Regions from separate parts of the Homo sapiens genome. Here region 1 is linked to region 2. Evidence: fine-mapped expression QTL. A gene starts in region 2. The other region holds a variant in brackets. All regions are shown on one strand. Distances are from middle to middle. Region 1 overlaps EXT2 (exostosin glycosyltransferase 2). Region 2 holds the start of EXT2 (exostosin glycosyltransferase 2).

What was found. PIP is the estimated chance that this variant, and not a neighbour inherited with it, causes the effect.
Region 1: its variant is the best candidate, but not a certain one, in a credible set for the expression of EXT2 in whole blood (INTERVAL, PIP 0.77).

Annotation. Positions count from the first base shown.
Region 1 is chr11:44,160,986-44,163,485 of GRCh38, forward strand. The region is part of intron 7 of EXT2 (exostosin glycosyltransferase 2); the gene reads left to right. Among named protein-coding and RNA genes, the nearest start is that of EXT2, 67 kb to the left of the region's middle. The variant A/G (reference allele first, on the strand shown) is at 1,037.
Region 2 is chr11:44,093,872-44,096,879 of GRCh38, forward strand. It overlaps EXT2 (exostosin glycosyltransferase 2), which reads left to right and starts at 1,807. Exons shown (of 14, transcript NM_207122.2): 1 at 1,807-1,981. RefSeq lists a silencer at 1,674-2,293 and an enhancer at 2,714-2,763.

The sequences.
Region 1 (2,500 bases), 67 kb after region 2:
ATTTGTTTCATTTTCCACATTAAGTTGGATGCTTACTTTATTTTTGTATGATAATTTGGCATATACATCAAAATAAAATTAAAGTGTGGGACTAGAAGCAGTTGGAATTTTGGAAATATCTGAAGTCTCAGTAGATTTCATCTCTAAGATTTTAAATATAAAAAGTGGCTATATACTTTTAAATAGGTGAGATATGTTAGCAGGCTTCAACTTAACATTTAAGGCAAATGTCAGATTTTTTATTGCTGTGAACTTATTACTGAGGAAAGAAAACATTTAAATATTTTTCTCCAGCCACAAATCCCCATAAGTTTAAAGATTTTGACAGAATGCCATACTTTATGTATGTTAAAAAATTGTAAGCCAGGATCAATGGCATGCACCTCTAGCCACAGCTGCTCAGGAGGCCAAGACAGGAGGTTCACCTGAGCCTGGGAGTTTGAAGCTGTAGTGTGCAATGATCGTGCCTGTGAATAGCTACTATACTCCAGTCTGGGCAATGGAGCAAGACCCTGGCTCTTAAAAAAAAAAAAGTAATATTCAGTGAATACAATTTCATAGTTTTTAATCCTTTCAAAGTACATTAAAAATAGTGTGCTAAATTCTTTGATACTTCTTCCTCCAGGAGGTGAAGCTTCATTACTCTCCCTTTCAGTATGGACTGAACATAGTGACTTGCTTCTAGGGAGCATAGACTATGGGATGGGAACAGTAGTAATTTAGCAGTGGGAAAACCTGGCAGACCTCACCTTAACTATGTGAGCAAGGTTAACGTTACTTTTAATAAGTCATATTGGTAGCATATGTCCCCTGATGGAGTGTGAAGGGAAGGGTACATCATCTCTGTAGTATTCTCCAAAATCTATAACCTCAATCTAATAAGTAGAAAACATCGGATAAACCCAAATTGAGGGACATTCTATATGAAAGTCCTGACCAGTACTGTCAACTATGTCAATGTCATGAAAGACAAGGAAAGACTGAGAAACTGTCCCTGATTAGAGGAGACTGAGCTGACATGACAAGTAAATGCACT[A/G]TGGTGTCCTGGATTAGATCCTGGAACAGAAAAAGGACTTTAGGAGAAAACTGGGAATCTGGAGAAGAAAAAAAGTATGTTGTTTAGTTAATAGAATTGTACCAATGTTAACCTCTTGGTTTTGATAATTGTACCATGGTGATGTAAGATGTTAACATTAGGAGAAGCTGGATGAGGGGCATTCCAGATATTTGAGAACTCTCTGGCTACTATTGCAACTGTTCACTAAGTCTAAAAGTATTACAAAATAAAAAGTTATAAAAGCAATTACCAGCTGGGCTCAGTGGCTCATGCCTGTAATCCCAGGACTTTGGGGGGCCGAGGCAGGCAGGTCACCTGAGGTCAGGTGTTCAAGACCAGCCTGACCAACATGGCAAAACTGCATCTCTACTAAAAATACAAAAATTAGCCAGGCATGGTGGCAGACGTCTGTAATCCCAGCTACTCGGGAGGCTGAGGTAGGAGAATCGCTTGAACCCAGTAGGCTGAGGTTGCAGTGAGCCGAGATCGCACCACTGCCCTCCAGCCTGGGGGACAGGGTGAGACTCCATCTCAAAAAAAAAAAAAAAAAAAAAGCAGTTACCACTTTGCATAGCAAAGCAATAGACAAATACTGAAACCTACCAAAAACTTATAAAATGAATTCTGCTGCAGTTAGGTGAACCATTGTGTGTGGCTTTCTATAAACTTTCAGCAAGTGCCATATGGGTGGGTTCCTAAATTACTGTCTTTATGTAACTGATAGGTGAAGATGGTGGGGCTGGGAAAATGTACTGGATTAATAGAAACATGTTTCCAGGAGTTGCATGTGGAGAAGGCAAATAAAACAGCTTCATGAATAAGGAAGTGAAAAAAAGCCGTCTCATGTTTTATGCGGCAAGGTGTTTTACATACAACTAAATTAACAAAATAAATATTTTAAGTAAAGAAAATGATTAGTATGTGGATAAATCCCAGGTATATTAACCTTTTTGCTTCAAAATCCCTTTTTATGTTAAAGAAAGTAAGTTCTATTAATTGCTGTTTGTTGGATCCCCAAGTTAAAGGGATATCAGATATTTGTGAACTTCCTCTGCTCTTCTGGAGAAACTGGTAACATGGGCATAGTAAATGTCTTCAAAAACCTCCAGTCCACAAGAAGTGCCTTTAAAGGGTTTTGCTGATATTTTTTTCCCTCGAATTTTAAGTTAGTTGTCAGGTAACTCTTATATTTATGAAAATGGAGTATGTAAAAGAATAAACAAAAAAATCTTGCTTACAGTAATTCTAAACTAAAAGTAAGGATGCTTGGGTTATAATTTGGCCTTATTATTGAGCTTTTTGAGCTGTCAGATGAAGATTATTAGAGCCTATCTCTGGGACCTTCAGACTGTTATGAGGTTGTCCAAGAAGGACACCAGACTCCCTGCTCTTGTGCTGTCAAAAGGACCAGTGAGCACCAAAGAGCCTGTTGGACACAGGGCT
Region 2 (3,008 bases):
ATATGCCAGGCATTAGGCAAGTTTAAGGTTATAAAAAATGAAGAAGATAGGCAGCATTGTGTGAGGCTGTGCCTCACACAGTTCTTTAACACGGCAAATTCTCATTTTATAAAAGAACAAAGGATTAATTAAAAACATACATGTTTAAAATACAGATAAATATGGAGAAGAAAAAAAGAGGCCACAATCTTCCAGACCAGATAGCTATTGTTGACTTATTTCAAAAAGTGAAAACAATATTCCCTGGGATAAGATAAATTTGGATACAGTTCCAGTGGTGATTGTCACTGCTCTCCACCCATCCAGTTCTCAAATGGGGTGGGTGTGTGCTACATTTTGTATCATTTGCAGGGGGGATTTGATTTGGAAAGCAGAGCAATGCCCCCTTGGATGTGGGGAAGCAGAACATGAGTGTCCCATCCCCAGAATGTCCTCATCCCAATCTCCCTAGATCTGTGACAAGCAGGCATTAACTCACAAAAATATCCCTGGAATCGAGGTTGCTGCCGGAAGCCTCTGTAGGTATCTAGTCTCAGAATCATCACTTTGAATATTTAAGCTATCAGTGACAACTTCCACCAGATGGCGCCAAAGTACATCTGGGACCAGAAGGGATTTGGATCCTGTAGCCAGACCCACAACTCTACCAAACCAACATCGCAGGCCCAGGGGTCATTTCATTAACCTCTCAATAACATCGCTCTGAATTTTAATTTAATTTTTTAGTTTCCACTTACTGCTTTATGACAGCGGTTTTAGTGTGCATGGATAGGGCTAAATCATGTAAATAATAGAGAAAGATACAAAACAAAAATGCGTTTTTTTTTTTTTTTTTTGGAGACAGGGTCTTGCTCTATCACCCAGGCTGGAGTGCAGTGGCACGACCACGGCCCACTGCAGCCTTGACCTCCTGGGCTCAAGCAATCTTCCTGCCTCTGCCTCCTAAGTAGTTGGGACTACAAGCGTGTGCTACGATGCCTAGTTAACTTTTTATTTTTTGTAGAGATGGGGTCTTGCTCTGCTGCCCAGGCTGGTCTCAAACTCTTGGGCTCAAGCGATCCTCTCGTTTAGGCCTCCCCAAATGCTGGAATTACAGGCGTGAGCCACCTTTCCTCGCCATAAATGCTTCCATTTCCGCCTCGACAACTACTCCACCTGAAGCTGTTCATTTCTTCTTGCATTCCTTCCAGAAAAAAGTTATACACATGCCTGAATATAAGCACCTACTTTATATATTTCTCCCTCTTGTTTTTGCATATGCATAGTTTACCTAAAAGTGACTTGCCCGCTGTTTTGGACTACGCTTTGATCTTAACTAATATCTTGGAGATATTTCCTTACCCAAATATATTGCACTATCTCACATTACTCAAATCAATCAAATTCCATAATTTATTTCGATTGTGTCTAGCATTTCGCTATGATTAGAAAGAATGCTGTCATGGAACTTTTTGACAAACATTGTTGAGAATATCCATAGGGCAAACTCCGTACAGAGAGCTTGTTGGAATGAAGGGTACCAGCATTTTCCGTTTGATGGATAGTACCAAATTGCCCTCCAGGAATGTTATACGCTCACCAGAACTGATTATAATAAAACGTCTACATATTTGTTAGTTTTATAAGCAACGCGTGGTGTCTCGTTTGGGTTTAAGGATTCTTTAATTATGAATGAGGCTGTCTGAGCATTTCACTGCGGAGCCTGAGCGCGCCTGCCTGGGAAAACACTGCAGCGGTGCTCGGACTCCTCCTGTCCAGCAGGAGGCGCGGCCCGGCAGCTCCCGCATGCGCAGTGCGCTCGGTGTCAGACGGCCCGGATCCCGGTTACCGGCCCCTCGCTCGCTGCTCGCCAGCCCAGACTCGGCCCTGGCAGTGGCGGCTGGCGATTCGGACCGATCCGACCTGGGCGGAGGTGGCCCGCGCCCCGCGGCATGAGCCGGTGACCAAGCTCGGGGCCGAGCGGGAGGCAGCCGTGGCCGAGGTAAGCGCGGCTCTCCAGGGCGGCGGCCGGGCGGGCGCTGAAGCGAGGGCTCGGGCCTCCGGGGGCCGCTGCTGGGTCGGGACAAGGGCCGAGGGAGCGCGGCCGCGCGGAGGCTCCGTGGAGGCCCGTGGGCTGCGAGAGGCCACCCCCAGCCCCGCCGGGGCTGTGACAATGACTGCCCGCTTTTGGAGCGCTCCGATTTCCACTCCTGCTTCTCCTTCTCCTCCGGCGGCGGCCGCGCTTTCAGCATCTTGGTACCCACCTGTTCTCCTAGCCAACCTTCGCCCCCAGTCCGCTCCTTCCTTTCCTCCTGCGACCCGCCCTCCGCCCTCCGCCGTGACCCCTCCCTTCCTGCTGCCACCTTCCCGCCAGCCACAGGGATCTGATTCCTCCCAGGGGGATGTCCTGCGCCTCAGGGTCCGGTGGTGGCCTGCGGCATCCCTTGCGGTGCCAGAAGCCGTGGGACGAGGTAGGGAAGGGGCCAGGGGCATGTTATGCCGGGGACTGGGTGGTCGGGGGCGTGTTAGGCCGGGGACTGGGTGACCGGGAACTAGATGGCCGGGGGCGTGTTAGGCCGGGGACTGGGTGGCCGGGGTCATGTTGGGCCAGGCACTAGGTGGCTGGGGGCGTGTTAGGCAGGGGACTGGGTGGCCGGGGGCCTGTCAGGACGGGGCAGGAGTATGTTAGACTGCGGACTAGATTGCTGGTGGCATGTTAGGCCAGGGACTAGGTGGCCCGGGGGTGTGTCGGGCCGGGGCCAGGGGCATGTTAGTCTCGGGACTAGGTGGCCAGAAGCACACTGGCTCTGGGCTTCAACTTGAAGTCCAGAGGTGTTTGGGGCTTTGTTACATTCGGTGGGAACCAGATCTAAACACACAATTTTGAGAATCAAAGAATTGCTTGGTGTTACTGATTGGGCAATGCTAATCTAGAAAGGTTCTTGACTTATTTATGTGAAGATATGGTCTTGAAATATGTACATTTAAATTCTTGTAAGTCTTAACTTCTTGTAAGTCAGGTAAGTGCT